Regions from separate parts of the Homo sapiens genome. Here all the other regions are linked to region 2. Evidence: fine-mapped expression QTL. A gene starts in region 2. Each other region holds a variant in brackets. All regions are shown on one strand. Distances are from middle to middle. Region 1 overlaps HPCAL1 (hippocalcin like 1). Region 2 holds the start of HPCAL1 (hippocalcin like 1). Region 3 overlaps HPCAL1 (hippocalcin like 1). Region 4 overlaps HPCAL1 (hippocalcin like 1). Region 5 overlaps HPCAL1 (hippocalcin like 1). Region 6 overlaps HPCAL1 (hippocalcin like 1).

Evidence for each region.
Region 1: its variant is fine-mapped to the expression of HPCAL1 in whole blood (INTERVAL, PIP 0.92).
Region 3: its variant is fine-mapped to the expression of HPCAL1 in whole blood (TOPMed, PIP above 0.99).
Region 4: its variant is fine-mapped to the expression of HPCAL1 in monocytes (TOPMed, PIP 0.98).
Region 5: its variant is fine-mapped to the expression of HPCAL1 in blood mononuclear cells (TOPMed, PIP 0.93).
Region 6: its variant is fine-mapped to the expression of HPCAL1 in whole blood (TOPMed, PIP above 0.99).

What each region holds. Positions count from the first base shown.
Region 1 is chr2:10,366,484-10,371,415 of GRCh38, forward strand. All of the region lies in intron 1 of HPCAL1 (hippocalcin like 1), which reads left to right. Among named protein-coding and RNA genes, the nearest start is that of HPCAL1, 66 kb to the left of the region's middle. RefSeq lists an enhancer at 1,395-2,202 and a silencer at 2,840-3,134. The variant A/G (reference allele first, on the strand shown) is at 1,833.
Region 2 is chr2:10,300,796-10,305,727 of GRCh38, forward strand. It overlaps HPCAL1 (hippocalcin like 1), which reads left to right and starts at 2,109. Exons shown (of 5, transcript NM_002149.4): 1 at 2,109-2,382. LOC101929691 (a long non-coding RNA gene) reads right to left here and starts at 1,922. Exons shown (of 4, transcript XR_922791.3): 1 at 783-1,922; 2 at 47-218. RefSeq lists silencers at 1,644-2,423, 2,308-2,505, 2,824-3,003 and an enhancer at 2,684-2,743.
Region 3 is chr2:10,330,493-10,335,424 of GRCh38, forward strand. The region is part of intron 1 of HPCAL1 (hippocalcin like 1); the gene reads left to right. Among named protein-coding and RNA genes, the nearest start is that of HPCAL1, 30 kb to the left of the region's middle. RefSeq lists enhancers at 462-561, 1,092-1,291, 1,121-1,708 and a silencer at 672-721. The variant A/T (reference allele first, on the strand shown) is at 1,746.
Region 4 is chr2:10,397,708-10,402,639 of GRCh38, forward strand. All of the region lies in intron 2 of HPCAL1 (hippocalcin like 1), which reads left to right. Among named protein-coding and RNA genes, the nearest start is that of SNORA80B, 47 kb to the right of the region's middle. The variant T/C (reference allele first, on the strand shown) is at 3,094.
Region 5 is chr2:10,391,815-10,396,746 of GRCh38, forward strand. The region is part of intron 1 of HPCAL1 (hippocalcin like 1); the gene reads left to right. Among named protein-coding and RNA genes, the nearest start is that of SNORA80B, 53 kb to the right of the region's middle. The variant CA/C (reference allele first, on the strand shown) is at 2,317.
Region 6 is chr2:10,405,909-10,410,840 of GRCh38, forward strand. The region is part of intron 2 of HPCAL1 (hippocalcin like 1); the gene reads left to right. LOC124905972 (a long non-coding RNA gene) reads right to left here. Exons shown (of 3, transcript XR_007086211.1): 2 at 2,061-2,205; 3 at 1,550-1,937. Among named protein-coding and RNA genes, the nearest start is that of SNORA80B, 38 kb to the right of the region's middle. RefSeq lists enhancers at 1,750-2,949, 2,197-2,808, 2,809-3,421 and a silencer at 3,281-3,410. The variant C/T (reference allele first, on the strand shown) is at 2,979.

The sequences.
Region 1 (4,932 bases), 66 kb after region 2:
CCTTGGCCTCCCAAAGTGCTGAGATTACAGGCGTGAGCCACCACGCCTGGCCCCTTAATTTACTTTAAATAAAGATCTGGTTCTCCCAGATGAGGTTCACAGACAGATGTTCCAAGAGCACATCTGTCTGGCATCAGGAGACTCACCCATACCAAGCTCACAGTGCTGGCCATGATCCGACTCCCGCCCTGCAGCTCAAGCTTGGTCTGGAGACCTTCTCTGGCACCTGCCCCGGCTCCCCAGCCCCGGGCTTCCTGCATTGTGTGCTTCCACTCCCGTCTTCTCCACTAGGAGCTCTGTGGTACGGGCTTTCTGCACCTTGACCTCTGGGCCTCCCACCACAGCACGGTGAAGGCACCAACTATTTCACTGCTAGATCCAAGGATGCTGGGGCCGGGGGCAGCTCTGAGTGTGTCTCATACAGTGACCTTGTTTGAGGAGGCTGTGTAGGCCCAGGATTTTCCTGGGGTGAGGGACGCCAGGTTCCTTGATGTGTTGGGACAAAGACGTTGGCTGGGCGAGGAGGCTGCCTGAGATCCCACAGTGAGGCTGGCCCTGCCCTTGCTCGCCCAGCTGATCTGACACCCTCCAGATGGCCCAAGAGAGACCGGGAGGAGCATCTGGTGGAGGACCTGGGTGTTCTGTCTGGAGATTTCCCATTGCTTTTCCAGTTTATTGTCATCTGCTTGGGACTTGAGGGTAACTTCATCTCTCAAAATAGGCTGAGACTTTTTACAGTTAGATATTTAATATACAGATGACGGGCGGATGGTAGTGTTGTTTTAAGGGGGGATTTTGTTGCTGTCGTTGTTGTTGTTGTTTTGAGACAGAGTCTTGCTCTGTCACCCAGGCTAGAGTGCGAGCTCGATCATAGCTCACTGCAACCTCAAACTCCCAGGCTCAAGTGATCCTCCCACCTCAGCATCCTGAATAGCTGGGACTACAGGTGTGCGCCACCACGCATGGCTAATTTTTTGTAGAGATGGGATGTTGCCATGTTACCCAGACTGGTCTTAAACTCCTGGGCTCAACTAAAATTTTAATCTCCAATTCATACATTTCAGAAAGTATAATAATATGTAAAGCAAAATCATAATAGCAACAACAATCACTGTCATCCCACGGGTTGGTTTAGATGTAAATTTTATGCTTCCTTGCAAAAATTTGTCGAAAGTGCCAGAAAAGCCCTTGTCCCATATCACAGTCCCATGACCCACACTCCCATGGAAAGCCTTAGAACTGATGTCAGTGTGAGCCCTGTGCTGGAGTGGAGGGTGACAGAGCTTCGGACATGAGCAGCCTCTGCTGCTGCGGCCACCCTCGCCGGCCCTGGATCCCCACACAGTGTGGGGTGTTCAGGATTCCTCATGTGACCCTTACCCTGCCTGCCCTGGGACTGTGTGCCTGTGTGCTTGCATGTGTGTATGTGCGTGTGTGCCCATATGCGTGTGTAGGTGTGTGCATATGTGTATATAGGTGTGTGCATGTGTGTATATACCTGTGTAGGTGTGTATGTGTGTACATGTGCATTGTAGATGTGTGTGCATATGGTGACCTCAGTTCCAAAGCTTTCCATGTGTGTGTCCATACACATGTGTAGGTGTGTGCCTGTGTGTGCATATGCGCATACACATGTATAGGTGTGTGCATGTGTGCACACGTGCATGTGTAGGTGTGTGTGTGCATTGTGTGTAGGTTTGTGCATGTGTGTGCATACGTGTGTGTAGGGGTGTGCGTGTGTACACATATGCATGTGTGTGTGTGCATTGTGTGTAGGTTTGTGCATGTGTGTGCATACGTGTGTGTAGGTGTGCATGTGTGTGCACATATGC[A/G]CGTGTGGGTGTGTGTGCAGTGTGTGTAGGTTTGTGTGTGTGTGTGCATATGTGTGTGTAGGTGTGTGTGCGTGTCAGCATATGTGTGTCTGCATTCACTCGGCCAGAGCTCCTTGAGGGCAGGGTGGTTCCCACCTCTCTGTTCCCCCAGCTCCCAGCTCCGGCCTGGCTTTTAATCACAGAGTAAGTCAAGCCTGCTTTGGGAGCCTTCTGACTCCCCCAGACACACTGAGTACTCTTTCCTCGAGCTCAGTGCAGTTCGTCCACATTTTCCCAGCAGCACGCCTCCTGCAGCGTTGTCAATATTTATTTGCTGTTGCTGTTGCCTCCCTCCTGGACCGCCCATTCCCCAGGCCCTGTCTGGTGGTGGCCGCCCTTGGGGAGCTGGCCTCTCAGCACAGCGCCGGGCACCGGGGCTCAAGGTCAGTGGGTGTGTGTTTGGGCTTGAACTGATGTGTGTGTTTACTGAGCTTTCTCCGCAGCCTGCTCCGGCAGCTCCAAAATGGCATTTCAGGAATTGAATTACCGACATTTCAGTACTTGCGGAATCCAGGAATAGATTATTTGATTGTATCTGTTGGAAGTCATTGCCGTAACTGGCTTCGTTTTCTTCACCAACATCTAAACCGAGTGGGGAGGGACCGCAGGAGAATGCTGTGGTGACTTGATTTTCCCAAAAGCACATCTCCCAAGCTGGCGGCAGCCGATGGCGTTGCCCTGTGACTGGGGGAAGCCTGAGGACTCACGGTCGCCTCAGGCTGGCCACCTTCGCACTGGAACCTGCCCATCACATCAAGGAGCCCTCTCAGGCTGAAAACCCTGTGCCGGGGTGGCTGCAGCAACACAAGGATTCCCCTCCAGCTCTGTGATGTGGGGAGCAGAGGGCCACTGAGTCCTGCCATGTGAGTCACATGATGCCCGTGGCCTGATTTCTGTGCCCCCATCTTGCCTCTTAGAGTTTGTTGACCTCAGGGCTCACATATCCCTTGTAAGGGGTTGTGATGGCTTCCACGGCCATCATGGCTAGTTAGGATTTTCCTCCAGCCCTTGAGGAATTCTCTCGGGATTTTTTCTGGCCTTGCCTGTCTGCAGAATCCATAGAGGACCTACAGGAATGTCTGCCTCTGAGTCCATAGTACTTGCAGGCCTGGGAGGCTGGATCAAGGTGGATGTTGACACTTGGTGGGGCCGGAGCCCTGGCTTCCTGGCTGCCTCATAGCTCAGGCCCGTTTGACAGCATTTGTGAGCACCTGTCCCAGGCAGGAGCAAGTTCAACAGCAGCAAGGGCTCCAGGCAGAGGGAGGTGGGCTCTGATGGGACTCAGGGGCAGCCTAAATGTAGCAGAGAACTGAGAGGGGATCCCTGAGGCCTTCTTGGAGGAGGTGGTGGTTAAGCCAGCTAACTTTGTCCATTGGAAACTGTCACCAGGTCCTTATTAATCAAATAATAATGAATATGCCGTGTTCGGATCCACTAGGGAAAGCTGAAATTGAGCTCAAAGGAGGCATAGAAGTTCAGCTTGTAATTTTGAAAAAGGAAAAGGCTCTGGCCTCATTAGGCTGCCCCCAGTGTGTCCTTGAGACCTCCTTACTCCTTGAAATGTGCTTCTTAACGTTTTGGAAAAAACAACTTTCTCCTTCTATACTTAGCCCTTATCTCAATGTGCAGGCGCCTACCTGGCCCACTTATCTTCAAGAAATGTGCTGGGTTAGGCCTCAGGAGTGGCAGGCACATAGATACTGTATTTGGCCTTGGCCTTCTGCCCAAGTGGAGTCTCCGCATTCCTTTGTATGGGCCCATTGGGCATGCCTGGCTAATCTGCGCACCCTCTTTCCACTCTCCTTCCTGCATTTCTCCTTCCCTTCAGTAGTGGCTCCCTTCCCATTCCCCAAATCGCCTCTGCTTTTATCTTCTTCCAATCGAATTCCCGTCAGTCGTGGAGCAGGTGGGACACCTGTGTATGTTGCGGGGGCACAGAGAAGCAGCCTGTGCTCACCCATGCCTGCCTGCAGGTGCATGCTTGGGACTTGGCAGTGGGGGAAGATTTTGGGGTTAGGATTTCCAGGCTGGCTTGACACTGACCTGTTTTGTTCCAACCCATACAAGCCCTAAACCCTCATGTGCAGATCCTGCTGGCTCTCTGGGGAACACTTAGTTGGATGCAGGTAGGAAGAGGCTTCAAGGAGCAGAGGAGGGGCTGGCTGAGGGCCAGCCACTTTGTCTGGTCCCCAGAGCGGGGTCTAACATGTGGGAACTGAGCAGCAACTGTGAGCTAGCCCTCAGGCAAGGCTGCCCCATGATGCCAGGGCACATAGGGCAGACTCCAGATGATGGGGCCACTGCTGGCATTGGCCTTTTGCAGGGCACAGGAGTCTGCCAGGGGTGTGTTTTGGAGCCACCCATACAGGTGTACCAGCTTTTGGAAAATCCCAAAGATGTGGTGCCCTGCTCCTGGGGGTCTTGGGGGCTCCCAGGTAGCAACAGCGTTCTGGGAGGACGTGGGCTCAAATTCCAACTTTTCTACCAGGTTTTGGCTATCCTTCATCCCCGTGGGGCTCAGTTTCCTCATCTCCAAGCTAAGGGGGCCCACCTAAAGTTGTCACAGAATTGGACGTGTGACGGGGCAGCCCCCTTCACCTGTGGGATCCGAGGCAGAGCTGGCACCTCCAGGCTGTGGGTCCAGTGACCCGGCATGGAGCCAGCAAACAGAGGAGGCACCTCCAGGCTGCAGGGTCCAGTGACCTGGCATGGAGCAAACAGAGGAGGCCAGTGGGCAGGTGGGTGTTACCAGGGCCTGGAGCAGCAGGGGTGGAGCCCTGGGGCCAGGCAGGGCGGGTTTGGGGTGGCATGTGGTTTGTTGTGGCCCTGTCATTTGCAGTTTGGGTTAGTGGGTCTGGCTGGCCACCGGGGTTGGAGGGGAATGCCAGTGGGACTATACATTGTCTCCTTGGAGGTGACTGTGCCCCCAGAACTGAGTGGACAAGCCAGGCTTGTGTCCACACCTGCCCCCGTCTTTTACCCTCTTCTGGCTCTCCTCCAAGAAGAGCTTTTCCTAAATCATTCGCCCTGTTCACCTGGGCTTTGAGGCCCCAGGTGTAGG
Region 2 (4,932 bases):
GGAGGTGCTTGTTACATTAGCCCCAGGAAATTATACAACATCTTACCTGAATTTGCTTTCTTCTTTGCTCTAGTTAAATTCAAAACTACATATTGAATAACGACGGTGTGCTCTCTCTCCATGAAGCTTCGGGGTGGGTAGACAGTCCTCCTCTTGAAGGAACAGGAGGGACGCAAGGGAAGGGACCAACTTGTATCTCATCTGAGAGAGATACACTCCTGGAATAAGAGGTCTGCGGTTAAGTGTGTTTCTCTAGAAGTTCAGAAACAGAGGAAGCATCTGCGGGCTAAGCTGCTGAGGGCTAGGTGAGAGCTAACTGACCTAAGTTTTGAAGGATGGATGGGTGACAGGTTGGAGGGGGAAGATGGAAAAGTCACATGGGAGAGGAACAGCATGGGCCAAGTGTGGAGGAACCAGTGAGTGGGCTGGGTTTCAGAAACAGGCCTTGGTCTGCTTTTGAGCCCTCCCTGAACTTTTCCACCCCAACCCCACCTCCTGCCTGTGTCTGCCATGCACCTCCCTTCCTGTGAGTCTGTGGACAGACTTTGCCCCTTTGCCCTGTGTGTGCTTGGGAGAAATCTGCTCAGTTTCTGTGGCAGGGATGTTTCTACGTGTTCATCAAACCGGCTTTGTTTACTTCCGAAACACTCATGAAGACCACAGCTGCCAGAGCCCCTTGCATCCTGGTGGGACTGTGCGACTACTTCTGGCCCATGGATGTGGGTGGAAGTGACGTGTGCTTCCCCAGGCCTGGCTCCTGGACCCCACCGACGGCTTCTCACCTGTAACCCCACCAGCCTTCTACCTGGATACTTCACGGGGAGCTAGAGTGGCCTTGGCTAAGAAGGAGGCATGGCACCCGCGGGTACCGGGCCGCCTTCATCAGTCGGTGCACTCTGGTCCACCGCCCACATGCCTTCATGTAATCTTCACTGTAGGGCCCACAGGGAGGGGAACTTCCTCGAGGTCTAGCTTTGCCTTTCCGCCTTCAGAGCCAAGTAAGAATGAGGGGTCTGGGCTCGGCCCACCTTCCCTGCAAGGCCCTGTGCCCGCTCCCCTCAAAGCTGGTCTTGCATGTTGCTCTGGCGGCCTCTGTAGCAGGAGTTCACTCTGTTTTCCGTGGAGGAGGAGTGGAAGGAGGGATTCAAGCTCTCCCCTAGAGACGCTAGAAAGACAGTTTTGTCTCAGCCTCATACGATCGCCCAGCTCCACATTTCTGGCTGTTTCTGTGGTTACCTTTCTTCGGGGATGTTTGGGGCGGGAGGTGGGTGTGTGTGTATATTTGCTCTTCTGAAGCCGTTTTTCCGGAGCTCCTGGTGGGGGTGGGGGTGCTCTGTCCCTGGTTCCTCTCGAGGCAGGTGCAGGGGATGGAGGATGCCCCCCTCCCCGAGAGCCAGGAGGCGCCGACCCTGGGCAGGAGGTGCCAGACCGGCGCCTCTCCCGCGTGGAGCTCGAAGACCACAGATGCCTGGAAGGGAGGAGCACCTTCCGTGGTTAGGTGGGGAAACCGAGGCAGAGGCGGCCCAATGGACTCGCCTAAACGGCCTGGGGAGTCACTGCAGGTAACCAGAGCTGGAGCCAGGCTTCCCACTCCAGGCCCGGGGCTCTCCCCCGAACAGGCGTGGGAAGGGGTGCGAGCTGCACGCGGGGCTGGGGCTGGGGGTGCGGGGCTGGGGCAACTCGGCTCTTCCCCTTCCTAGGCCGCCCGGGCCACTTCCTGCGGCGTGGGGGCGGGGGGCGCGGGCGCAGGGCTGGCCCCTCCCGGGCGCCGCCTCTCGGCCTCTTCTATACCAGCAGGCCAGAGGCCAAGGGTTAGGGGAACAGAACCGGTGCCCGGCTCCGCCCCTGTCCCGAAAGCCACTGGGGGCTGGGACCCGGCAGGGCCAGGTTTGGGCCGCGAGGGCCGAGGAGCAGCGAGGTGCAGGGGCTGCGAGGGCCGAGCCGGGCGCTGAGGGTCCGGCAGGGGGCGTGGAGGGGGCGGGGCCCGGAGGGGGCGGGGCCGTAGGAAACTTGAGCGCCCGCCTCTGGCCGCGCGCCCCGCCCCGGCCCCCGCCTCCGGGTCCCGCCTCCAGGTCCCGCCTTCGCGTCCCTTCCTTCCCGGAGCTGGCAGGCGGGCCGCGGCGGCGGCGGGCAGCGGACGGGCGGACTGACGGGCGCCTCCACCTTGCTCCCTCCCTGGCTGCCGGCTTCCTTTTGTCTTTCTGGGCGGCGATGAGCGCAGGGCCGGCGCAGCAGCTGCGGGCGCACGGAGGCCCGCGCTGCTAGTCACTCCTCCCGGCCTCGGCGCGCTTGTCCCGGGCAGCGGCCCGGGCCCGCTGCAGCCGCCGCCGGCGCCGAACTTGGGCTCGGGAAGCCGGCGGACCGCGTCCTGCGCCGGAGCAGGTAGGGAAGGGGCGGGCTGCGGTCTGCTGGCTGCTGAAGTGTGCCCCGGGCGTGTGCACCCGGCGTGTGCACCGGCGAGCGCTGCGATCCGGCTCTTTGCGTGTGTGTTGTGCGCGCGTGTGTGTGTCCGGGAGTGCCCGCGTTTCTCTGCGCGGTGGAGTTGTGGGTGACTGCGGACGGTGGTGTGTCTTTCGAATGGCGTGTACTCGTGGGCATCCATGTGTGCCTTAGGTGTGCACATTTTGGACTGCGTTTGTGGAATTGTGTGTCGGGGCGCAGTTGCTGGTGGGGAGCGGTGCCTGGCGGGTGTCGTGTGTGAGCAGCTGTGCGCAGAGCGGGGTGGCGGGGTGGGTGTGGGTGGTCCAGCCCCACGCCCAGAGCCCCCTGTCCCTGCTGGTCGGCGCAGTGCGTAGCTTAGGAGCCTCGAGGACAGCTGGGACCCGACGGGCAAGGGCGGGCCTCGCGGGCAGGCTGGGCAGCCCTCAGGGAACAGGTCCGTGCGGCCCACGTGGGTCGCCTGTGAGCTTCTGCCAAGGGTGGGGGCCCACGCGGAGGCGATCCGCTCGTTCCTCCCAGGGCCATGGGGCGACGAGGAGAGCCCTGGCCTCCCCGCGACCCGCACTGCGACCTGGGCCAGACGCGCCACCTTCCCCGGTCGCGGTTTGCTTCTCTTTAAAATGAGGACAGCTCCTCCCTTGGGGGCTGTGGTGACAGGTGAAATGAGAACGCACTGAAGACAGCTCTTGGTCCAAAGCCCCGCACACAGTAGGTACTGTGTTAATTGGATTAGCGTCTCCTGTTTAAAATCCTTTTTTTTTCCCCTTTATCGTGGGTGGGGCCTTACATTTTCCCCGGGCGTGTTTTGTGCCTCTCCCTGGCCCTAACTTAACCGCGAAGCACTGAGATTCGAGAAAGTTTAGCTGCCAGCTGCGCTGCCTCCTGCAGCACCTCCCGGGCGGCGCCGCCTCCGCGAGTGCCCGAGAGCGCCGCGCTGGGCGCCGGCCCTGCCCCAGCCCCCAGGCTCCCGCGCAAGCGTGGGGGTCCCTCTCCTGGCCGGGAGGCAGCGACTGCGGAGTTGAGAACCCTTTGGTTCAACAAGTTCCTAGTCCGGGAGGATGCAGCTCAGCTCGTGGAGTCCGAGAGTCACGGCGTAAAATTGGCGCTTCCCGCACATGCAGATCTCGGGCTCCCGGGGTGTCCCGGCCGCCAAAGGCCACCCCTTTCCTCCTGGCTGACCCCAATTCCACCAGAGGAGGATGTTTGCCAGGGACGCCGAGTCCAGCTGCTGGCCTCGGCATTAGACAACCCCCAGCCCCAGCCCCTGCCATCCCTGCTCCCTTGCAGCCAGCCTCATGCCGGGGGTGCCACATGGGACACCTCCTCCTAGTCCCACACCTTAATTTAAAACATTTACTTTTGAAACCTACTAGTCGTAAAATTGAACCGCAGTGAACGAGCACCCAGCTCTTACCACGACTCACTCTCTGGAGAGTTCTGGCGCCTCGGCGCTGGCTCGGACGCAGCAAGGCCAGCTCTAGGGGTCGGGTGGCTCTCGGCCAGAGCGAAGGATATTCTTTCCCTTCATCGCCTTGGTGTCTTTCTCTGGGGGAAAAAAATCGCCTTTAACCAAGGGAGCCAAGATCTCACCAGTGCAGGAGGCTCTCAAAATGGAGCGCCGGCATGGGGTTGGGCTGCGGAGGGGACAGCATGGGCGGCCTTTTGGTATGGATGCGCTTCCCAACTGTCAGGGGCTACGTGATGGTGTTCCCAGAGAGGCGGGCTGCTTTGCGGGCTTTTAGGAGCCAGGGATAGAAACCTGGTCCGGTTCCTTTGGTTTCCCTCGGCCGAGACTGAAGCCCTGCAATCCTAGCCATGGCAGGCCAGGGGGATGCGATGAACTCATTTTCTCATTTTTCATCCTGACTTAGTGACAGGGGCACACTTAGAATGCACCCTGTTTTCTGTTTCATCAAATGATTTTATGTCCTACAAGAAAAAAGGGCTTTTGGTGTGAATCCTACTCTTTCCTCATAATCAGGTTCCATAATAATATTAAAAAAAAAATCAGTCTGGCTTTCTCAGCTCAGAAGACAGACCCAAACCCAGGTTTGTGTTTTGTTTTGTTTTTGTTTTTTTCTAGTTAAAGCCAGCCCTTTGTCTCAAGCAAGCCAGTGTTTTGGCCTTAGATCTATTTCTGTTTCACTTTTGAAAGTGCCTGTAATTACTGAGCTCTTGAGGTTTTATTGGATAATGTGGCAAAGGGAAGGCCCGGGGGCCCTGCCTCTCCCTTGCGGTGGGATGTGGTGCCACGGTGGCACATTCTAGCCTTGCCTGCTCCCTCTGCGTCCCACTTTCATGCTGTTTTTAAGGTGGAACAGAAATGTCAATGTGTGATAACAATTTGGGAGACTTTGTCTTTGGAATCCAATAAATGGAAGGTCCTTTGATCTGTGGAGAAACCAGAACAAGTCAAAACCCCAGAAGAACAGAGATTTGCCCAAACTCCAGCCAATGACCCATTTATTTCCAACAAGCCCTCCTAGAGATAGA
Region 3 (4,932 bases), 30 kb after region 2:
TATTGGAGGCTGATGTCTGAGACAGGGTGGCGGCAGGGTTGGTGTCACCCGAGGCCTCTCTCCTCGGCTCCGTGTAGCCCTTTCTCCCTCTGTTCTCACACGGCCATCCCTCCGAGTGTGTCTGAGTCCCAGTCTCCTTGTGAGGACACCAGCCCTAGATCAGGAGCCACGCAGTGACCTCATTTTACCTTCATGACCTCTTCAAAGTCCCTGTGTCCAAATACAGTCACATCTGGAGGTAGTAAGGATTGGGGCTTCCACATAGGGGTTTTGTGGGGGACACACTCAGTCCACGTTAACTCACTTCCTGCCCACGGCAGGGGCTCTCTGTCAGTGTGTCTCCGACTGCGGACCCCGATCATCTTTGTGAGAATGCAGGTTCCCAGGCCCACACCGTGCTGGTTGAGTCAGAGCTTCTGGGTGCAGCCTGGGGGTGCAGCAAGCCCACCCCTGCATTCGGAGAGCCTTAGCGGGAAGCCTGTTGCTTGTGCCTCCTTTGCAGCCCCGGCCTCTCCAGTTCTCTGTGTCTTGCCATCTTGGCTTCTTCCTCATCCCGCCTCTCGCTCCATCTCGTGGCCTCCCATCTGCTCTCCCGGCTGCAGGAGCGGTTTCTCTAAGCCTTGCAAGTGACCGCACCCTCTTACTGCATGCGGGCCTTGCCAAGAGCCTGCAGAGGGCGGGGCGGGCTCTGGGGACAGCCTGGACTCTCCTGCCTGCCCCCAGGTGCCCCCGGCCCAGCCACAGGGTGCTGGCTGCCTGTTACTCAGCACGTCCGCCTCTCCTGCCTCCTGAGCCCACAGGCGCCCTTCCTGTCACCCGAGCGCCCTCTCCTTCCTCACCTCGCCACCTACGCATCGTCACCCCTCCTCCTGCGTTTCCTCCTGTCTCCCCGGGGAGCTCGGAGTTCTGCAGGCACGGGGCTGGCTCCTTTCTTCATGTCCCTTGTCCCACAGGACACCGTTTCTGAACCCAGGAGACACTCAGGAAACCTTGCTGGTGGAACGGATGCAGCAGCGAGGTTTTCCGGGGCAGGAACACCCTCCCAGGAGCTTTTCCACGGCCAAGCGCTGGCTGGTGGTGGAGCTGCGCTGAAGTCAGTGTGTGCTTTGGGCCCAGCTGCACTGTGCCCGGGGTCCAGGGATGGGTGTGAGGCTGTCTGCCCCCCACTGCACGCCCGGCTGTCAGAGGCATCTGTCTCTTCCCCCGCATGCATCTTTCTCCCCGTCTGGCATGGTGTTTCTAGTCTTTTGTGGATGGGGACATAAACAAGCCGCCATCAACTGCTTGGTGACATTGGCCAATCCTGTGGTGGCCCCAGCTGGGCTTGCTGCCTGTGTGTGGTGAGGGTGCCCTTCTTGTCACCCGTTGTCATTTACGAGACAGCCCTGTGTCACCTGTTGATTCAGAGGGAGCTCTCCTCATCACCTGTTGTCATTTATGAGCCCCGTGTCACCTGTTGTTGCTTCACAGGGAGCACTCCTTGTCACCTATTGTCATTTATGAGCCCCGTGTCACCTGTTGTTGCTTCACAGGGAGCACTCCTTGTCACCCATTGTCATTTATGAGCCCTGTGTCACTTGTTGCTTCAGAGGGAGCGCTCCTTGTCACCCGTTGTCAGGTGTACTCACTTTGCTTCTCCCTTCCTGCTTTTGGGGACGATCACAGGACAGTGGCTTCAGAGGGGAAGTACCTCGACCTGGCTGAGGTCATGCCCAGAGCCTGACTGCTCTCTCCACCCACCCATG[A/T]TCCCGTCAGCTTCTTCCCCCTCCTTCTCCATCTGATCTGAGCATTTACCATTTCCTTCCATTTAAGCTTCATTTGAGTTGCATCATGATGTTCTCCTTTTTTCAAAGTTCCATCTGCCCACAGGTTTCCATTTTCTCTAGAACCCTCCTCCTTCCTCTCTAGCCCCTGGCCCGCCCCTCTGCGGTTCTCAGGAAGCCCCTCGGTGCCCCCTGCCCCTTATCTAGAACAGCTTCTGCCTAGGGTGGGCAAGGCAGGGTGGGAGGTGGGGGGTAGCCGTGCAGGGAAGGGGTGAAGCGGGCCCCTGTACTCCCTAGCTGGGCTGCAGGCTTGGAGGAAAATAAGAGTCAGACGCTTGTTAAAACAGTGAGGACAGCTTTATTCGAGGAAAATGCAGTCGGGGTTGACCTTATCAGCAGGGGAGAGATCAGCCCAACTCCTAATACAGCAAGGAAGGGACAGAGCTGGGAAGTGGAGTGGGCTGGGTGAGTGGAAAGTAGCTGCGAGAAGACATCACAGGTAGGGGGATTCTTGCCAAAGGCAGGGGGGGACTTTGATGTCAAAGGTGGGGATGAGGACTGATTGGATCTCAAGGGTGGTCAGATGTGAAGGGCGTGAGAGGCTCACTAAACTGACTAAGCAGGATTCTTGCTGAGACTGGGCCAGGCAGGCTGAAGACAGGAGGCAGAAAGAGGGCTCAGAGGAGCCTGAGTGAAGTTTGATCTTGGGGTGAGGGGTGCAGGGGGGAGGGGCAGGGTGGGTCTTTGTTGGGGCTCTGTGGGAGATTTCAGGGCTCACTGGATGTGTGGGGCACAGTGGGCCCTGCCTGAGCCCCATGACGCCTGGACGCTGCCACCAGGGGCCTGACCTGCTGACGATCTCTGCACTGGGTCTTTAATCAGCCTCTTGGGCATTGTAAATGCTAGACAAAGATTCTTCTCTTTTTAAAGTTTACTAATTTCCCTACGATAAAACTAATGCATTTTCACAGGAGAGACTCGGGAAATTACCAAGGAGCGTGAATCAGGTGGTCACAGTGAATTGTGGATGTTTGTGTCTGTCTTGGGGAACTGGTGTAACGTTTCTCCATCTGACCCCTGCTGTCTGTTGGAGGTCAAGGAGCCAGCCTGGCCTCACAACTTCCTCCTTTCAGCAAAGTCAGGAGGCCATTCCCTCCAGGGATGGGTGGGCTGCAGCCTCTTGGCACCTCTCGGGATCCTGCTGGCAGATGTATCACCGTAGCCCAAGCCAGCCTAAGCCAGCCTCCTGTGGCCCAGCACCTTCTCTTCCCACGTGGGCAGCTGTGTTCCCAGGCAAACCTTCCTGGAATTGCTCTGTGCTCTCAGAGCTGGTGTGCTTTGGTGTTCAGCTGTGGCCATTTTGGCTTTGAGTTTGATTTGATTTTTGAAGAAAGTTTTTATTTCTTTACCCAAATATTCTATGTCTCTTTGGTAAGACTGGAAAACACAGAAAAACAGAGAAAAAAATTCCCCCATAACTACCCTGCCCACCTCCATATAACTTTTATTAGCATTCTGAGCTATACCCCTCCAGACTCATTTCTGCCTCTCCAGAAGTGTGCATAAAGTCTAGAAACATAGGTGAAGAGACCTAATGCCATCAAGAACATCAACCTGTAAAGGAATAAAATAATGTCATCTGTGTCCAGATTTTACAGATGCTTTGTAGATATGTGTAACAGAAATGTGGGTATGTTTTAGCAAAAATAAGACCATATTTTTGTTTTATTTTGATTGATTGTACTATAAATTCCAGTAGAGCATTACAGAGCCAGCCCAAGCCCATCTCTCCTCTTCTCTACTCTTTTCTTTCCCCAGTGACCAATAGCCACTCTGCGGAGGGAAGTAGGGATCATATTTGTGCGCGTTTTACGCTCTTGCTACACATGTGCGTAACCTTAAACAAAACATTAGTTTTTATGTGTTAGAAATACTCATAAATGGTGGCCCAGGCATGGTGGCTCACGCCTGTAATCCCAGCTCTTCGGGAGGCTGAGGCAGGAGGAGGCTTGAGGCCTGGAATTCAAGACCAGCCTGGGCAACATAGCAAGACCCTGTTTTGTTTTGTTTTGTTTTTTAAACAAACAAAAAAACCAACAACAGTTAGGTGGGTGCAGCATCATGTACCTGTAGTCCCAGCTCTTCAGGAGGCTGAGGTGGGAGGCTCTCCTGAGCCCAGGAGTTTGGGGTGATAGTGAGCTGTGGTCACACCACTGTACTCCAGCCTGGATGATGGAGTGGAGTGAGACCTTGTCTTTAAAAAAAAAGAAAAGAAAACAGAAAGAAATACTCATAAATGGTATATATATATATCACTTTGTAATTTGTTCTTGACTACTTTGTCAACAATTTTTAAGCTGTATCCATGTTGATACATAGATGTGGTTCATGGTCTTCTTTTTTCTCCTTTTTGTTAACTGCTGTATACAATTCCATTGACTTTTTTTTGAGGCAGGGTCTCGCTCTGTTACCCAGGCTGGAGTGCAGTGGCACGATCTCGGCTCATTGCAACTTCCACCTCCCAGGCTCAAGCAATCTTCCCACCTCAGCCTCCCAAGTAGCTAGGACTACAGGTACATGCCTGGCTAATTTTTGTATTTTTTATAGAGTCAGGGTTTTGCCAAGTTGCCCAGCCTGGTCTTGAACTCCTGAGCGCAAGTGAGCCACCTGCCTTGGCCTCCCAAATTGCTGGGATTACAGGCGTGAGCCACTGTGCCAGCCCCCATTGTCTAAATAAGCCATCGTTTCTCTAGTCATATACAGTTAGGTCACTTCCATTTTTTCATTAGTATAAAGAGTGCCATATGAATATTGATCCTCCTTGAGTGCTGTGGAAGGAAGCCTCTAAGATGCCGCCACTGGTCCCCACATCCTGGTCTTCACACCCTTGTGTAATCCCTTCCCTCGGGTGTTGGCTGGACTTAACTGACTTGATTCTAACAAATAGAACACAGCAGGAGGAATGGGACATCACTTCTGACATCAGGTTATAAAAAGACTGCAGCTGCCAGCTTGGGTGTTCTCTGTTGCCCTCTTGGATTGCCAGCCCTGGAGGGAGCCAGATGCCATGTCTCAAGGCAGTCCTGTGGAGAGGCAGGCCTAGGTGACAAGGGACCAAGGCCTGCCAACAGCCATGTGAGTGAGCTTGGAAGCAGATCTCCATCCGCTC
Region 4 (4,932 bases), 97 kb after region 2:
GACCCTGGTCATCCTGCCAGCTCCCGAGACAGGAAGGCCTGGCCATGTCCCGGGGCTGCCCTCGGGTCTGGAGAGCCTGCCAGCCATGCTGTGGGGCTGCCCTTCCAGCGTTGAGGGTTTGGTTTTGTTTGTAAGCAAGGAACCAGGTATGCGATGCTGGAGAGTGTGTAATTCTGGCTGTGCCTCTTCACAGCCCCTTCCAATCTCGTGCATATTAAGGTTGATAAAAACACCCTCTTCAGGGTCAATGCGAGATCAGACCTGGAGTGAAGTGTCCCTGTGGTATCTGGACCAGCAGGACCTGGCTGCCCCACAGCTCCTCCTCTCTCTCCCTCCTCCCTCTCATGGTCTCATGACTATTATGGTGACTCTTGTCACTCACCACCCTGCCCCACCTGCTCCTGCATACTGTGAGCATCAGTTGGGGCCATGGATGTAGCAAGGGTCAGCTGTCATAGGCTCCCGGGGGGACACCTGGGGGAGGGACATTTGGGGACAGAGCCCCATCTGGCCATGCCCAGCCCCTGAGAGCCCTCATCACCGACTTGCATCTGGTGAGTTTGGCAGGGTCCTGTATAAGGATTAAAGTCCTCCAAGTCCTCATACAAAGTCGCTTTCCAAAAGTCTGGAATTTTCTTGGCCCTAGACACGGGAGATGCTCTTTATAATTTTCATCTTCCCACTCAGAAGGAACCACCTTTGAATACTCAGCCAGGCTAAAATTTGGACCCAAAACCTGTTAAAGCATCACTGTCTTAATTTCAGTGTTCATGATGGGGTTCTGGGCTGTGTGAGGGGTGGAGGGCAGATACCAGTGGCAGGTTTCATCTGTGGCCCTGGTAGATGTGAGTCCCGCAGCCGGTCAGCCCAGGGCCCAGGGCAGACCCCGGGCGTGGCTGCTTTCCCGCTGGGCACCAACGCACGCACGTGGTGTTTCCAGGGCAAAGTGAGCTCCCCACCCTCTGCCCGTCCCCTGCCCCGCCCTTAGATCTGCATCCCGTGGGTGGGGTGGGTTTTCCTGCCTTCCTCTTCCTGAGGGAGGCGATTTCTCCTTCCGCTTTCTCCTTGCCACAGTAGCTGCTGGGTTGGGAGGAGACATCCAGGCTGGGGCCTCAGCCTCAGGGTGCCAGTTAGCGTGTGGTTAGCTGAGAAAAAAGTATTTTTCTCAGCAGAAAATAGACACAACTGCATGTGAAGGGGCCACTTCCACTCCTTCATTCTCCATCCACCAGCCTTACTGGAGCTAGAGAGTGGGGGAACATCTGGGTCCGTGTTACCTGGATGTCACCTGCATACAAATGTCCTGGCCCGAGGCCACTGTCAGCACGGGTGCACAGGGGAGGCGCCTGGCCCGGCAGGTCGTGCTGAGGCTGATACCCGTGTCAAGAAGCTGGAGCAGGCGAAGAGATCAGAAGAGGGTAGAGGAGGTGGTCCGAGGTGTCCATTCCCATCCCCAGACCCCTGGGGCATTTCAGTGCACGCACAGCAAATAATATCACTGCACCACCACCACCACCACCACCACCACCACCATCACCACCACCACCACCACCATCACCACCACCACCACCATCACCACCACCACCACCATCACCACCACCACCACCACCACCACCATCACCACCACCACCACCACCACCACCATCACCACCACTACCATCATCACCACCACCACCACCACCACCACCATCACCACCACCACCACCACCACCACCATCACCACCACCACCACCATCACCATCACCACCACCACCACCATCACCATCATCACCACCATCACCGCCACCATCACCATCACCACCACCGCCGCCACCACCGCCACTGCCACCGCCACCATCACCGCCACCACTACCGCCACCGCCACCACCACCGCCACCGCCACCGCCACCACCACCACCACGAGTTGAGGGACTCTGGGATCAGAAGGCACTTTCCAGCACATTCACACCATTGGCCGTGGATGTTGTGGGTCAGGTGATGGGCACTGGAAGGGCCTTCCGCTTCTCTCTGCCCCTGGCCCTTGGTCATGTACAGCAGGCCGCTCCCCGGGCAGTGGAGAAGCAGCACCTGCATACTAAGGCTCGAGTCCCAGCCTCCCCTACCAGCCTCCCTCTCCACGTCCCCAGACACTCATGCGTTCCTTCCCTTGAGGTGGGTTCATGGAGCACGTACCCTGTGTCAGACAAGCTTCCAGGCTCTGGGCTTCTGATGGAGAACAGACCAGAGTAAACCTGGCCCCAAGGACCTTGAGCTCCACTCAAGGGGAGACAGACAGTGAACTCAACAAAACAGAAATGAGAGAAAGGATCAAGCTGGAAAGGGGATAAAGAATGAGTGTCGGTTTTGGATAGAGTGCTTGGGGAAGGCCTTCCTGAGATGAGACCTGACCAAAGGCCTGCAGGAGGTCAGGGACGGGCGTGCTTCTAGCTAAGGAGCAGCTGGTGCAAAGGGCCTGTGGCAGACGTGCACCCGTGGCAAGGAGGGGGCGAGCAGGCGGCTCAGCCAGGTCGGAGTGGGTCACACCTGAGGGGCAGGACGCTGGCAACCCCGACCGCTGAGGAAGACAGGTGCGAGCAGCATCTCGGCACAGCCAGACCCCCACCATACGGCAGCCCTCTGTGTCCCTTAAATAAGGATGCCTCCTCCCAGGCTTAAGAGATCATTGTTGCTCATAGTGATTTGTGTAGCCAACAATTCTTCTGGAAGAAGTTAGATGAACAGGGCCATGGAGATTTGGGGCCGGAAGAGCAGGACCCCAGGCTTGCCTCCCCTCTAGTGCTGGCCAGGCCGTGGATCCCAGGCGGGCATCTCAGAGAGCCATCTGAGCGGCCTTTCTGGAAGTGCCCTCCTAGGCAGACGCTGGTCATGAGGCAGGGCAGCGGGGAAGGGACAATCCTCCTGTGTTGTACATTGAGGGTTATATTTAGGGTGACTTGGGATGACTTGGCAGTATCACTTCCTGTGGTCGTCCCCTCCAGCCCTCAGCCACGGAGGGCAGATCCTGTCTGACAAGCATTGTGGGCAGACACGTGCCTGCACACACGTACACACCCACATGCACACATACACACACGCACACACATACACACATTG[T/C]GGGCAGGCACAACTTGGCATTCTCATCTGCCCTGGAATTGGTGGAGGGCTGGGGACATTGTCCTGGCCCTTCTGCAGGACCGCCAGGTGCCTGGCGGGGGAATCCTAGCCGTCAGCATCTCCGGAGCATCTGCTCCATGTCGGGCTCTGTGTGAAGGGCTGCATCCAGATCCCACATGAGCAAGACCGGCCTAGCCTCCCCATCTGGTTGGGAGATGCCAGGCAGAGGTGGAAGGAAGGGCGGCTGACCTGCCCCTTAGTCTGCTCAGCCACACAGGCAGCCACAGCCGAGGCTGCACAAGGACACTCCCCTGACCTTGCTGCCTGCTGGCCCCGGGTCTCCAGGCCAGGTCCGAGCCAGCCAGGCTCCTCCCCACCCATGTCACCGGCCTCTCTAGGTGGAGTCCACAGTGATCTTTGCTCCCCTTCCCCAGGCATCCAGCACCACACCAGGCACAGGGCCTGGTATTTCTGGGACAGCCCAGATTACACGTTTTCTCTCAGTTACCCCCTAGAATATTCTTGGACTTCTCAGACCCCATGTGCAAATTTTTAGCTTAGAAGTAATCACTGGGATCATAGACGATGTTTAGCAAATATCTGTTCTTTTGGGTGTTCCTAGGCCCCCAGAGGGTCTCCGGGAAACTGGCTCTTTTGCTGAGGCTAGAGACTATCTGGGCTAGAATGTGTCTGATGGGGCTCTCGGAGGGTGCACAGACAGTGCCGCGGTGGCCGAAGATCCACTATTCCAAGGCCGGATCTGCAGAGGATTTGGAAGTTGTCTGTAAGGAGCGCCTAGATCACCCGGACCTTCTCTCTCCCTCCTTGACTTCCTTCCTGCCTCTCGTCAAACAATTACTGTGTGCTTCCTGTGTTCTAGGCGCTGTGCTAATAATTGGTTATGGGATTATTCCTAGCCACACCCTGGGTAAATGGAACCCAGCTCTCTGTCCTTGGGAAAAGGGTCAGGAGAGAACTGGGGCCCAGCTGGGAAGCTGGAGGCTTGAGGCTGCTGGTCCATGTTGGAATGCTGTCTCCCTCTGCCATCCAGCACCCAAGCCCGGCGCCAGGCTCAGAGCAGGAACTGAAGCTTTTGCTGTTGTTGTTGTTTTTGTTTTTTGAGACAGTCTCGCTGTGTCTCCCAGGCTGGAGTGCAGTGGTGTGATCTCAGCTCACTGCAAGCTCCGCCTCCTGGGTTCAAGCGATTCTCTGCCTCAGCCTCCTGAGTAGCTGGGATTACAGGCGCGCACCACCACGCCCGGCTAATTTTTGTATTTTGAGTAGAGACGGGGTTTCACCATCTTGGCCAGGCTGGTCTTGAACTCCTGACCTCAGGTAATCTGCCCGCCTCGGCCTCCCAAAGTGCTGGGATTGCAGGCATGAGTCACCGCACCCGGCCAGGAACTGAACCTTGGTAGGAGAAGGAAAGAAGGAGTTCCTGTCTTGCTTTCCCGACCAGACTGGAAGCGCTCTGAGGGCGTTTTACACTTCGGTGTCTTCCCAGCACTTAGCATTGTGGCCTGCATGTAAGGGGTGTTCCGTGACTGCGTGTTGATTACACTTTGTGTGTATGGGTGGGTGCGTTGCCACAACTCTCCCTGCAGAATCTGTGGCCTCTGGTGCTGTGATTTAAAGACTAAAGATGGCAAAGAGTGGCTTTTATGAGCTGCCCCACTCCTGATTATAAACACACTCTCTATGAGTCAGAGGCCTGGGTGATCATGGATAAGTCACTTGCCAACAGTTAACTCCAGACTGTAGCTGCTGGGGCCACCGAGGGCGGCTGGAACATCACCATTCTGTGCCTAGCGTTTCAGCCGGGCTGAGGCCATTTTATTA
Region 5 (4,932 bases), 91 kb after region 2:
CTCAGCTTACTGCAACCTCTGCCCCTCCAGGTTTAAGCAGTTCTCTGCCTCAGCCTCCGGAGTAGCTGGGATTACAGGCGCGTGCCACCACACCCGGCTAATGTTTTGTATTTTTAGTAGAGACGGGATTTCACCATCTTGTCCAGGCTGGTCTTGAACTCCTGACCTCGTGATCCACCCACCTTGGCCTCCCAAATTGCTGGGATTACAGGCATGAGCCACTATGCCAGGCTGTTGTTGTTTTTTAAGACGTGGTCTCGATCTATCCCTCGGGCGGGAGTGCAGTGGCATGACCATAGCTCACTGCAGCCTTGAACTCCTGGGCTCAAGTGATCCTTCTGCCTCAGCCTCCTGAGTAGCTGGGACTACCCCCATGCACCACCATGCCTAGCTTGTTTATTTATTTAGTAGCGATGAGGTCTCACTATGTTGCCCAGGCTGGTCTCGCAGTGCTGGGCTCAAGCGATCCTCCCACCTTGGCCTCCCTTAGGGCTGGGATTACAGGTGCGAGCCACCACACCTGGCCAAGAATTGGTATTCCTTAAATATTTGTAGAATTCAGTAGTGAAGCTATTTGGCCAGGGCTTTTCTTTGTGGATAGTGTTTTGATTACTAATTCAATCTCTTCACGTGTTATAAGTCTTTCAAATTGTCTCTTTCTTGAGACAGTTCTGGTAGTTTGTGTCTTTCTACTTGGCTTAGATTTTGCAGGCCTCCCCTGCTCTTTCAGTCATAGTTGACATTTATTGAGTTCTTTCTATGTACCAAGCATTTGTTGTGCATTAGCTCATTTAATCTTTACAAAAACTTGATGAGCTAGGTAGTACTATTGTCATCTCCATTTTACAAATGCGGGAGTGGAAGCAGGGAGAGGTGAGATAACAGGTCAAGGTCACACTGTTAGGAAATAGGAAACAGTCCAGCTGGGCTTTGATTCCAGACAGTCCAGCCATGCAGCCCCTGGCCTTGCCACCTCCCTCTGCCATTCTCCAGAGACTCGGAGAGGGGCCTAAGGCCTGACATGAACGAAGGGCTGGGGGAGGTGGGGTCGGAAGGGCCCCAGGAAAAGCGTGTGTGTGAAGGGCTCAGACTCCCAGTTGGGGAGTTCGGATGTCCCCTTCTGGGGCTTTCATCTTCTAACCTCCTCTCCCAAGCGCTCAGCCAAAGGGCAGCACAGAGCACCCTACCCTAAGGTGTGACGCCCCAGCTGGCAGGACTTTGGAGCAGTAGATCTGTGCCCAGCAGGTCTGTATGAATCACCCAGGCCTCTGCATTTTGCTTTTCTAGAGGAAGAGGCATGGCAATTTGTAAGACAATCGCCAGACAGAAATCGGGAGCAACCAGACATAACTCAACATAATTATTTCTGCATAATGACTTCTGCTACTTGATTCTGTCTCGAGCAATGACTGTAATCTCTATCTGTCACTGGGAAGCTGGTGGCCAGGGAGCCCCTGTGGCTTAGAGATAGAGCCAGGAGGAAATTTGCAATTCGAGTTAATGGAGTGTTCCCAAGCAGCCTGAGCGCCAATTCCTTCAAGGTCTCCGGAACAGCAGACCCCCTTCCTGCTAGGAAGCCTGGTGTCAGAGCTGGCTGGGCCTCCTCTGCGGAGTCCAGCTCATCCACTTTGTCACAGATGGGGAAACTGGAAATGGCAGAGGTCACAGGATGTGCCCAAGGCACAGGCCAACCTGGAACCAGCACTTCCTCTCCACCCTCCCACCACCCAGCATTTTCCCCTTCAGCTGGCCTGGCTGTGGTGGGACAGAGGAAAGATGCCTCTGTGGAGCTGGTCACTGAGAGTGCTGGCCAGGCAGGGCTGCCCCCAGGAAGCTGGAGACAGTGGGGCCTTTGCAACCAGATAGCGAGGGACCTCAATGTGGAGATAGGGTGTGCTTGCTGAGCGTGCCAGCAGGCTTGTGCTCACCTGCTCCAGCTGGGGGCATGCAGAGGCCCCTCCTACCCCAGGAGGATGCTTATTCACTGCATTCCATGGCCTTTTAAAAATCCCCTTTAGGCCCGGGCGTGGTGGCTCACACCTGTAATCCCAGTACTGAGGGAGGCCAAGGCAGGCAGATGGCTTGAGCCCAGGAATTTGAGACCAGCCTGGGCAATGCAGTGAGATCTCATCTCTACTAAAAATGAAAAAAAAAAAAAAAAAGATTGGGGTGCACCTGTAGTCCCAGTTACTTGGGAGGCTGAGGCTGGAGGATTGCTTGAGCCTGGGAGGTTGAGGCTGCAGTGAGCTTTGATTGTGCCACTGCGCTCCAGCCTGGGTGACAGAGCGAGATCCTGTCTCCTGAAAAACAAACAAA[CA/C]AAAAAAAAACCTTGTAACTAACCAGAGCAGCTGAAAAGAACAGAGCATGGGTTTGGGGATTTGTGTTTTGGGCGCCCCACACCCCATTTAGCCGAGTGTCACCTGAGCTGGTGTCCCGGAGTCTCTTTCCTTCTCCATAAACAGTTGAGAATGAGCTCTCTGCCAGGCCGGTAGGAAGGGGATGATGAAATGAGGACCTGGTACATTCTGCTGCTGGTTCCATTGCTGGGTTTCTCCTCGTGGAGAGCCCTTGACCCTGTCCAGGTCTTGATTTCTCGGAGTGTCAAAGCAGTGCGCACGGAGCTGTGAGATAAATTGGCTGAGATCATCGATTTGAAAACGCCGTGAGAAAATATGGGGCAAGGCAGAGAGCACAGAGGGGCTTTAGGGCAGCGAGCCCGCGCTATGTGATGCTGTAATGGTGGGTGCGCATCGGTACACGTTTGTCAAAGCCCACGGAGTGGCCCACGCCAAGAGGGAACCCTAACGTGAGCTGCGGACCTGGGGGGTGATGATGGTCAGTGCAGGTCCCTCAGTTGTAACAAATGGCCTGCTCTGGCAGGGGATGTGGATCGTGGGGAAGGCTGTGGCCGGGAGTGGTGTAAGGGGTGTGTGGGAACTTTCTGCTCAATTTTGTTGGGAAGACCTAAAAAATAAAATCTTTTATTTTATTTTATTTTTTTGAGACAACATTTCACTGTCACCCAGGCTGGAGTGCAGTGGTGTGATCTCGGCTCACTGCAACCTCAGCCTTCTGGGCCCAGGTGATCTTCCCACCTCAGCCTCCCAGGTAGCTGGGACTACAGGCACGCACCACCACGCATGGCTAATTTTTTGTATTTTTAGTAGAGATGGCATTTCATCATGTTGCCCAGGGTGGTCTCGAACTCCTGGAGTCAAGCAATCCACCTGCCTCAGCTTCCCAGAGTGCTGGGATTACAGGCGTGAACAATGGTGTCCAGCCTAAAATCTATCTTTAAAACACACACACACACACACACACACACACACACACACACACACACACTGCTATCTTAAAAGCATAGGGACCTTGCAGTGAGAATTTCTGGTGGGAAGATGTATGACTTTGTCAGGTCTTGAATTCTAGCAGTGAGTTTACATTCCATAATTGGCCTACAAAATTCTATATTTGGGAAACAGTAGAAATTTAACTCTGAGCAAGATACACCCTATTTCCAATCACACGTGATGCATCTCGGGGGCATTCATTTGTCAAACATTATTTGTTGAGCACCTGCTGTGTCCAGGCTCTGGACGCATAGACGTGAAACGGACGATTTCCTGACCTTGTGGCGCTCACAGTCAGGGGGGTGGGTTGGTGGGTGGGTGGAAGGAGGGGAGAGGTGCAGCACCCCCATTGTGCAGGAGCGAGGGGAGCCCCGCTGGCACGCCGCACTGTGCTGAGGCTGGGTGTTCTAGGGTGAACAAGCCACTTCGTCTAGTGGGTGCTTGTAAAGCGGGATCGTTGCTATGAGAGAGAGAACCTTGCGTTGGGAGAAAGTAATTAGGGAGTGTGCGGTAGATGCGGAAGAGAAACGGGCCGTCAGGTGAAGTGACTGTCAGGATTCCATCCTGGCTCGGCCCCTTGGAAGACACATGATCTTGCAGGTAATTAGCTCCTGTAAGCCTCCATTTTTCCCCGTCTGTCAAATGGGGATGATGATTGTGCCTGCCTCCCAGGGCTGCTGTGTGGATTACGTTGGATAATGAGTACAAATGCATAGACAGCCTTTAGCAAGGAGCCTGGTTGTATAGAGCTGTCGGCCTCAACACTGTTAATACACATATGTACCAGAGGCTGCAGGTTCACGGAGGAGGAGTCACCAATCCATGCCCGGGGAGCAGGCAGAGAAGAGGGAGGCGGGCCCGTCCCGAGTTCACGCCACGTGAAAGGTGCTTGGAACGCTTGTGCCAGAGCTGGCAGTGAGGGTTGAGGGTGGGAGTGGCCGAGCACCTAGACACCCGCAATGCAAATTTTCCTTCTCAGTCTCTGGATGGTTTTCTGAGCTGAGCTGCGGGCTGAATGTCAGGTGATGCGTCCTGACCTCTTCCTGAGCACCTAGTGTGTGCCCTGTGCTGGGCCCAGGAGGCATGCTGGGGGCAATGTGGGCCTCAAGGAGGAGGTCGGGTGATGAGGGGCCAACCCAGGTATGCCAGTCAAGAAACCGTGGAGGCTGGAGAGACCCTGAAGGGAGCAGGGCACAGTCGTGGGTGGCAGGCCTGGGTGTGCCTGATTCCACTGAACCCTCGTAACAGCCCTGGGTGCAGAGTGTAGAGTGCTGGGTGAGGACGGAGGCTGTGCGTCTGTGATGGCCCCAGGTGACAATGCTGTTGGGATTTGAACCTGAGTTTGTGGACCACAGAGGTCCCGGCCACACTTAGTTTCCATGCCAGTTTTGTAGTAACCAGCAACCTCACTCGAAGGGTGGCCAGCATCTTACCTTGGGGCTTCTATCAACGTTGTCCTGGGCTTCTCGCCTGCTGGGGTGCAGCGGCCTTGGGCATGTGCCCCTGTCCATGGTGGCTGGCCGGAGGCCGGGAGCCAGGGCTTTCTGTATGTAGCATGGCACTTGCAAAAACTGTGATCCCCCAG
Region 6 (4,932 bases), 110 kb after region 2:
CCGCAAATGGGACGTTGGGTGATTCACATGGTTGTTTCAGCTTTTGAGTTTTTGTTGTGTGATTGAATAGTAATAGAATTATTCTTGGTGTTCTATGGAGCATTACCGGGTAGTGGGGAGGTGGGCACACTGAGCCTCTACTGTTTCTCCCCTTCACCCCTCCTTGCTGTCATCAACATGCGTTCTCCTACAGTCATGCTCCGCGCTAATTCCTTTAGTCATTCCTTCCAGCATTACTGAAACTGGAAGAGTCTTTTGTGGCATGTGGGGATTCCTCGTCGTGCAGGGCTTGAGTGCCACAGGACCCAGTGCTCGCTGTCCCCATGCCCTGGCACACACTGTTCCCTTTGTCCCAGCTGGAGAACTCCTGGAACCTTTAAGCCCTGGCTCAGCCCTCAGCTCTGTCCCATCCCAGCTGACCTCTGTGCTCTGCGCCCGAGCTCCTGAGCCCACGTAAGTCTCTTCATGCCCATCACTGCTGTTTCATGGGCGTGTGTGGGGGGTCACTTCAAGGAGCCCCAGGAAGGGTCTGTGTCTTGTCCATCCACGTGTGACTACACCCAGCATGGAACAGGACTCGGGAACCACTGAGGTGTGGGTGAAGGAACCAGTCCAGAGACTCCACTCTCACTTCAGCCTGATGTTTCTGGGGTCTGTCACTGAAAACCCCAACTTCGCCTTCAAAGCGAGATCCTGGGTGGGGGCAGAGGAAGTCCCAGGCTCTGTGGCCAGGACTCCACACCCAGATTTCCACCGGGCTCGCTCTAGCCTGGCCCTGGCACGGGTGCTGCGTGGCTCTGCTCCCCGCCTGGCATCCGGCACCCTTCACCTCTGTAGAAACACGGAACTGTCACAGGGACAGACGTACATGGGTCGGGGGTTGCTTTCAGAAAGTCTATGGTCTCATTTTGGTCCTGCCTTTGAGCTTCCTTTTCCTGCTGGGTTAGGGTTCCGGACGGAAGGGGAGCATTCTCTTGGGCGTTTCCCTTTTCCTGTCTCCCTGTTCTCTCCCCAGAGGCTCATGTATGTCCGTTTCACTCACCTCCCTTTCTCTGCTTGGGAGGCAGCTCAAAGAGCTCCTCTCCAAAGACTCAAGCTGGAGTGATGTTCGCTCTATGATGACGCCGCACTGGTCCAGGGAATGATCTCACTGGAGAGTAGCAGGAAGTCCCCCATCCTGTCCCCCACCCCACTGGCTGAGGACCATATAGCTGGGATGTGTTCACCTGGGAAGGAGATTGGCACCAGTTTGATAAATGGACACCCCCAAGTCTGGCATGGCCCCAAAACTCTACTCTGCTGCAGCTGTTTCCATGCCAGAAAACAGAGATTTCCAGAATACCGAGTCTGAATGTGCCTTCTTGGAGCAGCTTCAAATCTGAGCAGGAGAGCACTTGACCATCCTAACCCCTGACCTTCCTCCAGCAATTCCTAAAACTGGAAGAGTCACAGAATGTTAGAATAAGAGGGATCCTAGAAAAAGAACCACTCACTCATTGCTTTGTTCATTTGCTCAGGCACTGTGCTAGGCGCTTGGAATACACAACCATTCATTCAAACATATTTATTGACTGAATTGTGTGCCAGGCCCTGTTTTGGGCCCTGTGGGGGTACAGTGGTGAACAAAAGGAGGCAGACAGTCAAGAGATTTTGTAAATATAGTGCCAGGTGGCAGGAAATGCTGAGAAAGGGGTCAGGGTGAGGGACCAGAGGGTGAGGGTGGATGCTCTTTGAGGTGGGTCCTTGGAGGAGGTTTCCCCACGACTGTTGAGCAAGAACATGAACTTGGAGGGAGTGAGCCTTGCAGACACTGAGGGGAAGGAAGAGCAGACAGGTGGAGGGAACTGCAGGTGCGAAGGCCCTGAGGCTGGAACACGCTGAGCAGCTTCTCTGACTGGGACAAATGAAGGATTCTCCTTCCCCCAGGAGCTCCCAGTCTAATGAAGGAAAAAGACAAAGAAGTGACGCGTTCAAAGCTGAGTTCATACTAGAAAAACGCTGTTAGAATTCAAAGGGAAGAGCAGTTGTAGGGGCTGGGAAAGGCAAGCCTGAGGAGTGACCTTTGCATTGGGCTTTGGTGGATGAGTAGGGGTTGGCAGGGTGGCTGAGGCGAGCGTGCCACACGGGTGAACTCATATCTGCAGAGGCACAAGGTGTGCAGGGACAGCCACCCACACATTCCTCTTCCTGTCGCAGTAGCAGCTTCTGCAAGAGAAAGTACAGCTCTTGGGGATTTCCCTTTTCCTTTCTCCACCTCTTCCTTCTCACCAGCTTCATTTAGGGCATTTCAGCCTTGAGAGGGTGGAAAAGAAGGAGAGATTGGTAGAGGAAGGGGATTTCTGTGCCCTGCTGGGTCTCTCTCTCTCTCTCTTCTCATATGTTATGTTTTTCTTGTAAGGTTTTGGGGAGTTGTGGGGAGTTTAAGAGGCTGGGGATGGGTAAGAAGTCAAGAAGGTTTCGGTTGGATTTCTCAACAACAGGTCATTGGCCTGGAGCCCCTCCAGTGGGTAAAATGCCGTGATGCAACAGCTTTCAGGAAGGCCTCCAGAAATGAGCTCTAGGTCAGTGGGTTGGGTTTAGGTGCAGGCACGCCCTGGAACTGTCACTCTAGAGGTGTTACTAACCTCCTCTTTCCCCGGATCTGACTCAGCAGGGTTGGCTGTTCCAGCTCCAAAGAGAAGGAGGAACCTTTTCCTTCTGCAGCCCCTCCCCACCAGCCTCATTCCTTAGCTGGGGTCAGACCTGGGGTCCTCACTGCAGCTGGCCTCTGGCAGCGTTCTCAGGCTAGCCCTCCCTGCTGAAAAGAGAACCGTGTGGGACTCACAGGTAATTATGAAATACAAACGCCATGATCTTTCACTCAAGGGCACTAAGGAGTGAATAAATAAAGGATACCACAGGGTGCTAATGAGCTTGAAGAGTCCCTGTTTGGTAGCCCCAGATCCAGGGTCCCTGGTATCACCCACTGAATGCTACTT[C/T]TACCCAGCACTGCCCACGGGAAATAAAGTGGGAGACACATACCTATGTGATTGTAACTTTTTCTATAGCCGCATTGAAAAGTAAAAAAGATGAAATTTAAAACTTGTTTGATTTAAACCGTTAGATCCCAAATGGTATCATTTACCATTTCACATGTAATCAAGAAAGAGAAAGTATTAATGAGATATTTTATGTTGTTTTTTTTCATATGAAGTCGTCAAAATCCGGCGTGTATTTTACACTAAGGGCACATATATGAGTTCAGACTGGCGACGGTTTATGTGCTCAGTAGCCACGTGTGGCTGGTTGTGACCATAGTGGACAAAGCAGCCCTAGCTTATAGGTGGAGACACGGAGGCACCTGAGAGGGGCGGGGTCTCAGCTCAGGCCCTGGGAGCCTGTTCAACAGCTCCCTCTAGCGTCGGCCCAGCCACACTTCAGCCTGGATGGTCCCAGATGCATCGGCTCCTCCCTGCACCTGGGTCCTGGCAGCCGGCACAGCCTCCCCGCAATCACCCAGGGGCAAAACGGGCCCCTCCTTGGAGAACTACCGGGAAGCTAAGGCTGCAGGCAGCTTGACTGTCACTTGCTTATTTGGAGGAAAGAAGGACACAGGCCCGAGTTGTTTTGAAAAATGCAATCAGCCCTAGGAGAGGGGCTTAGCTGCAGGGGCCGTGTGGGTCCAGCGGTCACCGGGAGAAAGAACTGGGTTGGGTGCTGGATAAGAAAGAGCACAAACCTGTTTGTCTTCCACCGGCCCCTTCTGCCTTCCACCTTCCTGTTCCACCCCAGGAAGAACAAGCTCTCATCTCAAATGGCCTGAGCCCTCTGATTCCTTGAAGTTCAAATTCACAACAAACGCCTCTCCAGCCTCTTCCTGAGCCTCAGTCTTTTTTTTTTTTTTTTTTTTTTTTTTTTTTGAGACAGAGTCTCGCTCTGTTGCCCAGGCTGGAGTGCAGTGGCACCACCTCAGCTCACTGCAACCTCCACCCTCCGGGTTCAAGCAATTCTCCCGTCTCAACCTCCCGAGTAGCTGGGACTACCAGGTGCGTGCCACCGCACCCAGCTAATTTTTTATATTTTTAGTAGGGACGGTTTCACCATGTTGCTCAGGCTGGTCTTGAACTCCTGAGCTCAGACAATCCACTGCCTTGGCCTCCTGAAGTGCTGGGATGACAGGTGTGAGCCACGGCGCCCCGGCCAGCCTGGGTCTCTCATAAGCATTTGGTGTTTCCCACCTCTCTGGTCGCCTTCCCTCAAAGCATCTCAGAGTCTGGTTGGCCTGGCAAGCTTCGGGGATCTGACTGATGAAAGCATTTTGGAGCAATGGGATGAGATGCCAACCAATGCCGTCAGCCGGCACTGAGGTGGGATTAACAGGACAATCAAGCCCTCGGTTCCCAGGAGCCTCACTGAGCAGCTGCTAGAACTGTGCCACTAAACAGGCTTTAATTTACAGGCAATACCGACTCTGGGTTAACTATTTCTCACAGGGCTCCCCAGCTGCATGTTTACATTTCTTTCCTTGTTCCTCTTTTTCTTCTTCTTCTTTTTTTTTTTTTTTTTTTTTTTTTACAATTCAGCAGATTAAGAACAATAGCAGGGTAACTGAGAACCACAGAGGTGGCTGTAAGTGACTCATTAACTCCCTCTCCCATGTTTCCATCACCGTGAATTACAACGTCATCTCTGATGCCCTCAGACAGCTGTTACTAGTTTGATCCGAGCCTTGCTTGAATATGAATCTTTTTAAGCCGAGCAGGAGATGGTTCTGCTCTCAAATAGACTGCCCTCCCCTGGGCCTCCCATTTCTTACCCCACCATCCTCCTTGGAGATGAAAGACTTCCTGAGAAATGAAGGCTGGGTTTGCCTAATTACTGGAGCAAGGTGGCTGTTCTGCTGGGAAACGTGAGTGGTGGCTTTCTGTCTCTGCAGAAAGGCTTGCTTTTGCT